Regions from separate parts of the Homo sapiens genome. Here region 2 is linked to region 1. The links come from fine-mapping of genetic effects on gene expression. A gene starts in region 1. The other region holds a variant in brackets. All regions are shown on one strand. Distances are between the middles of the regions.

Evidence for each region. PIP is the estimated chance that this variant, and not a neighbour inherited with it, causes the effect.
Region 2: its variant is the best candidate, but not a certain one, in a credible set for the expression of PARP11 in whole blood (INTERVAL, PIP 0.56).

Annotation. Positions count from the first base shown.
Region 1 is chr12:3,870,794-3,876,177 of GRCh38, forward strand. It overlaps PARP11 (poly(ADP-ribose) polymerase family member 11), which reads right to left and starts at 2,606. Exons shown (of 8, transcript NM_020367.6): 1 at 2,419-2,606. The coding sequence starts at 2,436. PARP11-AS1 (PARP11 antisense RNA 1) reads left to right here. Exons shown (of 2, transcript NR_183432.1): 1 at 1-1,163. RefSeq lists a silencer at 2,274-2,383 and enhancers at 3,055-3,575, 3,576-4,095.
Region 2 is chr12:3,795,651-3,801,034 of GRCh38, forward strand. No RefSeq gene overlaps it. Among named protein-coding and RNA genes, the nearest start is that of CRACR2A, 45 kb to the left of the region's middle. The variant A/G (reference allele first, on the strand shown) is at 3,180.

The DNA of each region.
Region 1 (5,384 bases):
TATGGAAAAATTAAGAAGGACTGATAACAAAAAGGGAATAATAGCTACATAAAGATATAAATACAAAATGAAGGTTGTTGATGACAGATAGTGAAACTGAATATATAAGCAGAGAGCACATTCTCATTATTCTAAATTATTTTTGCTAAAATCAAATACAAGTAATTACTTTCCTCTAATGCAGCTTGAAGAGAGTATTATACGTATGAATCGAAAATACTAAGATGATGACTATTGTTATATGATGCACAAGAAGGAACCATAATGTGCAACTACCAAATCCAGACCAACAGACTAGTTTCTACTGGATAAAAACTTAACTTAAAAACATAGGGAAATGTACTGATAAACTTTCTAACTTATCTGGAAATATATTCCAGAAATGAGAGGGGAAGAATACTGATTATAGGAAATTATTGCAAATATGGAAATTAGGGGTTATTAAAGTAAATTTATGCAGTTATCTCAGCATAGGAGTAGTTTCTTATGTTTCATACACAATTATGCATTGCATAAAAGCTTTCAGTCAACCATGGATCGCATATACAAGTGGTCCCAAAGATTGTTAACACTTTATTTTACTGTATCTTTTCTATGTTTAGATACATAAATACTTTCCATTGTGTTACGAATGCCTACAGTATTCAGTACAATACTATGCTGTACAGATTTCTAGGTTAAGAGCAATAGGCTATTCCATATAGCCTTAGGTGTGTAGCAGGCTTATGAAAGTACACTCTATGACGTTGGCACAATGAAAAAAATCACCCAGCAATGAACTTCTCAGAACATATCCCCATTGTTAGGAGGCGCACGACTGTATTTAGTCCAACAACTTGCTGAAATGTGATTCTACCATTTTTCCAGTCAACTCCTAAGTTTTAAATACCATACATCTGCCACCTTACCAGGCAGTTTCAACCATAACAACAGAAGAATACTCTTGGCAAATAGATCCCACTCTCTGAGGGTTGTGTTGGGGCTCAGAAAATACTACCCCGAAGTATGACACTTTGGCATGCTGAATACTTTGAACTAAAAGAGATTGGAAGGCCTCAGAAGCAGCCTCGGAAGCAGTCTCTCCCTCTGATCTCCTGCCCTTCTGTCTCCTGCCCATCTTTCGTCCCAGAAGTGAGTCACAGAAACCAGAATTCTTCCCCAAGGTGAGTGATAGAAACTAGGATCCCTCTCCTACAAAGCAAGCCATAAAAACTGGAACTATTAAGCTTTCCCTGCCATTGTCTATAGGAACTGGCCATAAAGAAATTCTCTAATCTACCTTGCCTGATAGTAGGTCGCTAAGACCCTCATTCCAGAAGGGACCTTCCTCCTCCGTAGGAGGAAGAAATGATACACAGAGAGGCCAAGAAGAATCTGAACAAACAGACCTTGCTGGGCTTCCTTCCTCAGTTTATTAACATTAGAGTATATCCTTTGTCCAGTCACATTTTTACACAGTTGTCTATTCTTCATGGGTCCTACGCATAAAAATAGAGATCTCCCTGGTCTCTGAAGTGCCTGGTGGTGTAAAACTTTGATTAGATTTGCTCTGCTTTTACCTTGTTAACCTATCTTCTGTTTTAAGGAGTGGTGGCTGTGATCCTTACAATGGGTGGTGAGGAAAGGTACTAAAGTTTTCGGCCCCTACGTTGCACTTTAAATAAATAAATGTATAAAAGCAAAGTAGACAAAGACACATGAAGTCATAATGAAAATACCAGAGTCAGCCAAGGAAGAAGGCAGACTTGCAGTTGAAATGCTCCAGATCACTTTGTCCACCGAACGAAAACATCTAAGAACATACAGTCCATACTCCAAGTTTTAAACGACTGTCCACCAAGAAGGGAAAAGGAGAACTGATGGCTCCTCTTAGGCCCATTCAAGACAAGGGGGTCCCAATTCCCTTGCTTTAGACTGGTGGGACTGGCAGGTAAACCTGAGGCAAATGACTGACTACAGGTTCCAAGGCCAGTTACTCCAATTAGAAAGCAAAACACAAAGTTTCAAAAAACAGTGAAGGCAGTCGGGAGGCTGAGGCACGACAATCGCTTTAACCCGGGAGACGGAGGTTGCGGTGGGCCGAGATCACGCCACTGCACTCCAGCCTGGACAACAGTGCGAGACTCCGTCTCAAAAACAACAACAACAACAAATGGTGAAGGGATGAGGCTGAAACATCACGGGAAGTAAAATAAATAATTGTAACAAGAAAACAATAAAGCATTGGAGAATCCACCCAGGCACTTCCACTGCTTAAAAAGGTACAGACTACAGAAGCCAAAAGGCCCGGGAACTCCGGTCCCGGAACTCAACACCCAGACTGAAGCGAGCGCGGGGAAGCAGTTCCGGTGACCCCCTCCCGCCCCTCTCTCATCAACCCCGCCCCCTGGGCCCGCCCCGTCCCGCCCGGCTACTCACTGGATTCGCTTCCCACATAACGGTGACAAAATCGAGCGGAGAGAGCCTGTGGGAAGGGGCTAGCCGCGGGGCCTGGGTGTTGGATTTTTTTTTTTCCCGCGGGTCCCCGGGAGCGAAGGGACGGAGATGCAACCTTTACGAAGGCCTTCCTCCTCCCCCTCCCTGTCACAAGCCAGCGTTTACAGACCACCCAACCTCCCGACTTCCGCCCGACGTTGGCCAGTCAGATCTGTCTCCGCCCCACTCCTACAAGCTCGCCCCGCCCCTGCACGCTTATCCATACGCGCGCGGGCGGTCGTCCTGGGCGGGGCTTGCGAGTCTGTGTCTGACGAAGGAGTTTAAAGGGTTTCTGGTCCAACTGTATCACCCAGTGATCTTAAAGCCACGGCTGGCTGTATTTCTTTCCTATGAAACAAATTTTTATTGATCACCGTGTAACGACCAAGAGTCACACAGGCCTGGCAATGGCATTTGGGAGAAACTTCATAATCTTTCAATATCTTCATCCTCAAAATGGAGATGGTAGTAATATCTCCCTATGAGTGAGATTATTGAAAGCATTTAGCACAGTATTTGGCACACAGAGTTCAATAAGTGACGGTTATTTGCTCACAAGGGAACCTTTACATACTATCCCTGCCCTCAAGATTTTATAATCTAGAAAAGAAAGCAAAAAGTAGTTTAGAAAAGTTAAAAAGTGCAATATGATTTATAGGTAATATGGTGAATAGAGAGTGCTATGCGAGCATATTTACCTAGAGTAGAGTGTCAGGAAAGCTCCCTCAAGATGTTTAAAACCATGAGGATGTATTCCTACTGATGTAAAGAGAGCTAACAGAGTGAAATAATCTTCCATGCAACAAAGGATCTACCCCATAGGAAATGAAAATTAAACAGCTCATTATAGATCCTTCTGGACTTTTCTATGCCTCTACACATTGAAAAAAATGTAATCAAAGAATACCTATAGATTTAGAACCTGATTTTTTTTTCACTTTAAAGATTATGTGGCTATCCTTCCATTCCATTAAGTTTAAATCTGTTTCATCATTTTATTTATTTATTTAGGCAGAACCTCGCTCTGTCGCCCAGGCTGGAGCGCAGTGGCGCCATTTTGGCTCACTGCAACCTCCGCCTCCCGAGTTCAAGCGATTCCCGTGCCTCAGGCTCCTGAGTAGCTGGGATTACAGATGTGCGCCACCACGTCCCGCGAATTTTTGTATTTTTAGTAGAGACAGGTTTTCGCCATGTTGGCCAGGCCAGTCTCGAACTCCTGACCCCAGGTGATCCACCTGCCTTGGCCTCCCAAAGTGCTGGGATTACAGGTGTGAGCCATCTTGCACCCGGCCATATTTTAAAGTAGACTCATGGCATTCCATAACTTATGCGTATACTACGTACACACAAATAGACACACACATTTGAAATAATCTACTGAATAGACGTTTGAGTGGTTTTCTATTTTTCACTATCCCAAAAAAATCCTTCAACAGGCATTTCTTCACATTTGTCCATTTACTTCTTGGAATTAATTCCTGGAAATAAAATAGTTTACTAAGAGATTATTTTTGCCAAATGGTTGACCAGTTGCCCCCATGTCATTTAGTGAATATTCTTTCCTCACTACTTTGAAGTGCCACTGTTAATTACAACCTAAATTTGCATATACATATACATAGGTATACATACACGTATATATCTGTTTCTGAACATTCTCCTCTATTAATTATCTGCTTATTCCTAAAATATGCCACAGTTATAATCATTACATATTTAATATATTTGCCTTTTCATAAAGGAACCTCTCCTAATTCTCTTCTTTTTCAAAATTTTCAATATCATGGGTCTTTCCATTCAGAAATACTTGTTTTCTGTATCTTTAGATGCATTAACAATTTTTTTTCAGATCTGCATCAGCATCTGTAAAAAAAAAAAAAAAATCACATAGGTTTGCATAATCCTTGGGAAGTTTGTTCCTAGATATTTTATAGTTTTTTTGTAAGTGAGATATTTCTTATTGCTGTAATTTAGGAAAGCTATTGACTTTTGTTTATTTACCTTGTATCCTACCACACTATGAAAAAATGTCTTGTTAGTTCTAATAGCTTGACAGCTCATCTCTATGAATTTGTACACAGACAATCATTATCACCTGCAAATAATGCGTTTCTTTCTTCCTATTGCATTGGTCAAAACATCAGAAAAATGTTTAAGACTACAGGACAAGATAATGGATATCCAGCTTTAATGCAGTAAGGCAAGCATGTGCCCATTTGGTGCTAGTGCTAGTTGGTATTCTTTTTTTTTTTTTTTGAGCTGGAGTCTCGCTGTGTCGCCCAGGCTGGAATACAGTGGCACAATCTGGACTTACTGCCACCTCTGCCTCCTGGGTTCCAGCAATTCTCCTGCCTCAGCCTCCCGGGTAGCTGGGACTACAGGCACATGCCATCATGCCTGGCTAATTTTGTATTTTTAGAAGAGATGGAGTTTCACCATGTTGGCCAGGTTGGTCTCGAACTCCTGACCTCAGGTGATCCACCCGCCTCAGCCTCCCAAAGTGCTGGGATTACAGACGTGAGCCACTGCGCCTGCTAGTTGGTGTTCTGAAAATACACTATCATCTTTAAAGAAATTTTCTTCTATCCTGTTTTACTACATGCTGTTAAATCAGGAAAGAGTGCAAAATTTTACCAACTGTCTCTTAGCCTCTATCACTATATTTGTTTTTTACTCTGACTCTTTTATATAATGAATTATGCTCATTGATTTCCTAGTGTTCAACACATTCTTACATTTCTGAAATAAACTCTGCTTTGTCATGTTCTATTATTTTTTGATCAAATGAAAGCCATGCTGGGTTTGATTTGTTAATCTTTTATTTAGGATTAAAATGTATTTATAATTAATAAAATTGGTCCATTGTTACTGATTTTTGTGCTTGTCTGTAACAAGTTTTGGTATCAGAG
Region 2 (5,384 bases), 75 kb before region 1:
AAAATAAACAGTCAAAGGCACTGTTGACAGAGAGATCCTATTTCCAGTGGTTCAGAGGCCAGAAAGGGAGGGATGAAAATTAACTCTTCAGGTAGATGAAATGCTAGAGTCCCCAGGTTGCAGAGCAGTAACATAAGCTCAGATATCCGGGCCCTAAGTGCCTCTATAGATTCTGGCACCTGACAACCTCCCACCCTAACAGACAACCTGGGGAACTGCCTGCGTTTTGCAGGCACTAAGCAGTAGTTGGGATCGAGGCAGGGAGGACTAAGCAGCTGGGATGCCAGGGCTGATCTTACATGTAGCTGAGGTTTTCAGTTCCTCATACAGCCCAATTTATGTCTCACTCATTCCAGTAGCAGGGCTTGCTATTCTCTTTTTGGATACTAATGTCTTTGGGCTCTCCTCCTTAGAATCTTTTTTAAGTTTTGTATTTTCCTGAGTAAGAAAACCCACTGTGTCTAGGTGCTGGGCTTTGGGGTCAGACAGATGTGAGTTTACATCCTTCTTTGCTATTTAAGCTTCGACAGGTCACAATCTTAGCTTTAGACTGCTTATTTGCAAACTTCGGTTGATGACGCCCAGTCCACTGATGGACACCAGTCCATTATTTCAGTGTTAATTGAAATAATGTATATAATTAGAAATCATTATTCTGTTATTAAGGAACATTCGTGTGTGACTCATAAGACCTATCTTTCTAAAGAAAGGTAAAAATGGTATACTAACAACATAAGTAAACCCAGACTACTAAAATTTCTGAGTTGGAAGAGACTTTGGAGATCACCTGGGATAGAAAGGGTGCTGAATAAAAAAGAGGGTGGAAAAGAGGAAGGTGAGGAATTGAGGTATTTCAAAGACAAATATCATCTTAATTCATTCTCACACATGCAAAAAATCTTTCTTGAACGTCAATTGTGTGCAAGGCACCATGCTAGACATTGTCATTGCCTAAAGATTGCTAGAGTCTAGTAGGGCAGATAAGGTACGAACCCATCTTGTGCTAAGACTTATGAGAGAGTGGTTCTAAGGACAAGCACATGTACTCCTGGAGGGAGATCAAAAAGGTAGTTTCTATGTCACACCTACCCTGGCAGGTTGCCTCATCCATCTGCCAGTCTTTCCTTCATTAAAAGTCCCCAAGAAAAGCAGTTTCATAGCTGTCCCTGGTCACCAATTCCATGCCTCAAACTGTGACAGGCAATTCTTTCTAATGTCTAACTGACACATCTTGTGCCATGGTTTAAATCCAATTCCTCTTGTCTGTTCTCAAAGAAGATGGAGAGCAGCTGGCCCCCAACTTCTGCATAATAACCCTCTCAGGGGTTGGACACTGTCATTAAGTTGCCCTTGAGGTCTGGATTCATTATCCATTGTGGGCTGACTGAAAAAACAAAAGATGCAGACATTGTATTTCATTTTCCCAGCAAATGGGTTCCTGTGGGAATGTGGTGACACAGAGGACCGTGAAGTTGCCTTTGGCCATGGACAAGATGTTGGGGTAGGCAGCTGCAAGGCAGTCAGTGATTTTCTCCCAAGGACAGTAAATAGAGTATGATGCATCCTGGGAACACGACATCACTACCGTCACCCACAGGCGTTCATCCCAAAACTTCAGTTGCAGAGGACAAGAGAAATTTGTGCCCTATCCAGACAGTGATCTTCTTAGGGAGAATCAGGCGGCAAAATGAGGAGTAAAGTGAGAAATAAAGACTGTATTTTAGTTCAGTCCTAACTAATTTTATCTCATTTTGTCAGTTATTTAAAAAGATACACTTATTTATGTATTAATCATACTTTTTATTTTCTAAATTTTGTAGTGCTCTGTTGGCCAGGGACAGACTGGCCCTCCCAGGGCCGGCTAATTCCTAGACAGCAAAGGACTCTGCTGAGGGTGTCTTTCATACGCACACCAAACAATCCAAAGGCCGTATCTCCAACCACAACTTTATCTAACTCTCATACAGCAAGCCAGTATTTCCCCTGACCTAAATCACCCCAGGACCAGGTGTCAAACAACCAGAGACCACCTTTATAATCCAGGGCCTGCTGAAATTACCAGAACTACTATCCAACCCCCAAACTTCCTCATATTTGCCTTTCTTGTCTCATCCATTACTTCCCTGGAAAACCACAATAAATGCTCTGGGCCATGCTTTCCCCTCTCACCTCCTTCTGCCTCCTGACTGACCCTGATACTTCCCCCATGTGGCCCTGCAAGGGCATGGCATGGATCCTTCTCTTAAGTATAAGAAAGAAAACTTCTTTCAAACTCTGTGTCTGTCACCTTATCGTACCTGATTAAAACAAATCCTGAGTATCTTAGCCTGTTTTGTGCTGCTATTAAAAACAAAACAAAACAAACAACAACAACAACAAACCTGACAGTTCTCTCACAGTTCTGGAAGCTGGAAATTCCAAGATCAAGGTGCCAGCATCCGGTAGGGGCCTTCTTGCTGTGTCCTCACATAGCAGAAGGTAGAAGAACAGGAGAGAGCAAACCCACTACCTAGAGTGCTTTTTATAGCAGTATTAATCCTAAACACCTTCCGAAAGGTCCTACCTCCCAACTGTTGTATTGATGATGAAGTTTCCAACATGTGAATTTTGGAGGGCACAGAAACATTCAAACCACAGCACTGGGTAAAAATCTGGAAACAATTAATCACATCTTAAATCATTTAGATAATATGCCTCAAATTGTAGTAATATTAAACCACACAGTACTTAATATTGTTGGGGTAATATTGCCCATTGCTAAGGTAGTAACTTCCAATCTAAGGAGTACTTTGTTATTTGCAAATATTGACCATTGAGCTTCCTTGTATTTTGTTATACTTCTCTCCCAGAAGTTCAACATTTGACAGACATCAGCTTTCAAGAGGTATTCAGTGGTAACTCATTCATCATTTACCTGTCTAATGGTGTTCAGACAGATAAATATTTTCTGTCCTTTAAGAACTCTATGAAAGGAAACTAGATTTTTGTTAAGTACAAACAATACTTACATTGTTATGCAAATATATCACTCTTTTGCTATCATCAAAACAAAAAACATCCATGGACATGCATCTTAATTTCCTTGTCAGAATTTCCATCTTCCTTTTTTTCTTTTCTCTCTTATTTTCCACATCGTGCTGTCAGTACTCCTTGATTTCCATCAGAGGTTCTTTCCATGC[A/G]CTTAACCTTTAAGATTAAAAAGGCCTTTGTTCTAATCGACCTTCACATACAGCAAATCCCATTTTTGTTTGTGTTGTAGCTTGTCTCCTCAGACCAGACTGACATGGGGACCTTCATGTACAGCAAATCTCATTTTGCTGATAAGGAAAGCAAGAGTCTTGGCTAAGTTTCTTGGTCAAAATCATATACCAAGGTACACAATGAATTCAGGACTTTTGACTTTTGGCAACCGATGGGAATCTTGGGCAATAACATTTGTTACAGGCTAAATGCCCCCAAATTCCTATGTTGAAATCTTATCCCCCATGTGACAGTATTTGGAGGTGAAACTTTTGGGAGGTAATCACATCTGCAGGCACCTTGATTTGGGACTTCCCAGCCTCCAGGTCTGTGAGAAATAACTTTCCATTTAAGCTGCCCAGTCTGTGGTATTCTGTTACAGTGGCCCAAACTAGGACAATGTTCTTCCTAAAAAAATATAATACCAAATCTGAATAGAGGTGTGGAGATGGGATGAAATGATCTTTTAAGAAGCCTTTCAGTCTGAATGTATTTTCTAATAATATCCTGCTAAAGAGTAATCTAGTGATTAAATAATATATCCAGGTATGGTTACTGTAACCCAAAATTCAAGTGCATCCCTGGATATTTACTGCAGACCTCTATACTTGCCCAATAGTATAAACACTTTTATGTCCTGTTTGGTAGACCAATTTTTGGACAGCACAAAGGAGAGAGGAATGACTAATAATTAGGTAATAGAATTAAGATAAAAAATTTTTTTTGAAGCTGGGATAACGGGTTAATACCAATAAGATAAAATTTAACAGGGACATTGCTTCTGTTATGTCTGAGTCACACTCCCTTTCCCAGTGAAAAGACTTTTGCAATTTATTACATATGGTTTAAACCCTGCAACTTTCTTAACATTATACCCTAAGCACTTTCTCATGTCACTAAATATTCTTCACAAAGATAATTTTCACAGACACATGATATTCCATCTTGTGTTTATATTTAATATTACCTTATTTTTGGCCAGGTATGTTGCTTCTAATTATTTACACACATGTTAGGCTACAGTAATTATCCTTTTGTATAAAAAATAATTTAACAGGGACAAATGTAAAGGCCTTTGTTTAGGCTCAAAACTTCAATCATATAATTATAGATTCTATTTTTCTGGGCTTCTAGAAATTTTTAGAAAAAAATCTGTGATTTTTTTGTTAGTGACAAGTGCAATATTCCTCAATAGTGCAACCAGTATGAGGTTAATATCAGGAAGACACATTAGTTCCACTGTACTCTGTGATAGTCACATTACAGCTCAAATACAGTATCTGTTTCAGATTTCACCCTTCATAAGCAACATGGAGAGATATTTAAAAGACATCAATACAATTTGACAATTTATCAGACGAGGGATGGCTGAAAGAAGGGAGGGATTTAATACTGAAGAAGAGAAGACATTTGGTTATAAGATCTTAGATTTTAAATACAGGAAGGAATATGTTGGGGAAGCTTATATTTACTCCAATGACTGAGAGCTATATGAGGCAGATTTCAGATGTGGCCTAGAGCAGTTTAAAAAAAAAAAAAAAAACTCCCAAAGCTAGGGACACGATAATGAATTCTAATAGACTACCTTTTTCCCACTGAGGGCTGTAAGATTGGAAGGGCTGGCTAACATCAGAAATGGTACGAGTTAGAAACAGCTGCTTCCTCCTCTTCTGCATATTCTTGGATATTAGCATTCTTCAAGGTTCCATCCTTGGCCTCTCAACACTTTCCACACTTATCCTGGGTGAACTTCTATAGCTTTATAGAAGCCACTTCTATAGCTTTAACAACCACTTATCTAAAGGTGGCTTTTACATCTATATTTCTAGCCATGATTTTTCTCTTGAGCTCCTTGCCATCTAGAGAAGTCTTTTCAAATGTAATATATCAAAATCAGAGTTAATTATCTTCCTGTTGTCATTAGTCAGGACTAATGTGTCAGAAACACTAGCCAGCAAAGGCAAAAAGAGTAATTTATTGGCTTATGTTAACCAAACCATGGCAGGAATTAAGCCAGCTTCAGGATGCTTGAAATCAGAAACCAAAAGGCCACCAGAACTCTCCTATCTCTCATATTTGCTTCTCTCTGTGTTAGTTTCACTTTTCCCTACTGAATACCAGCTTCTTACGCCCATGAAAGACAA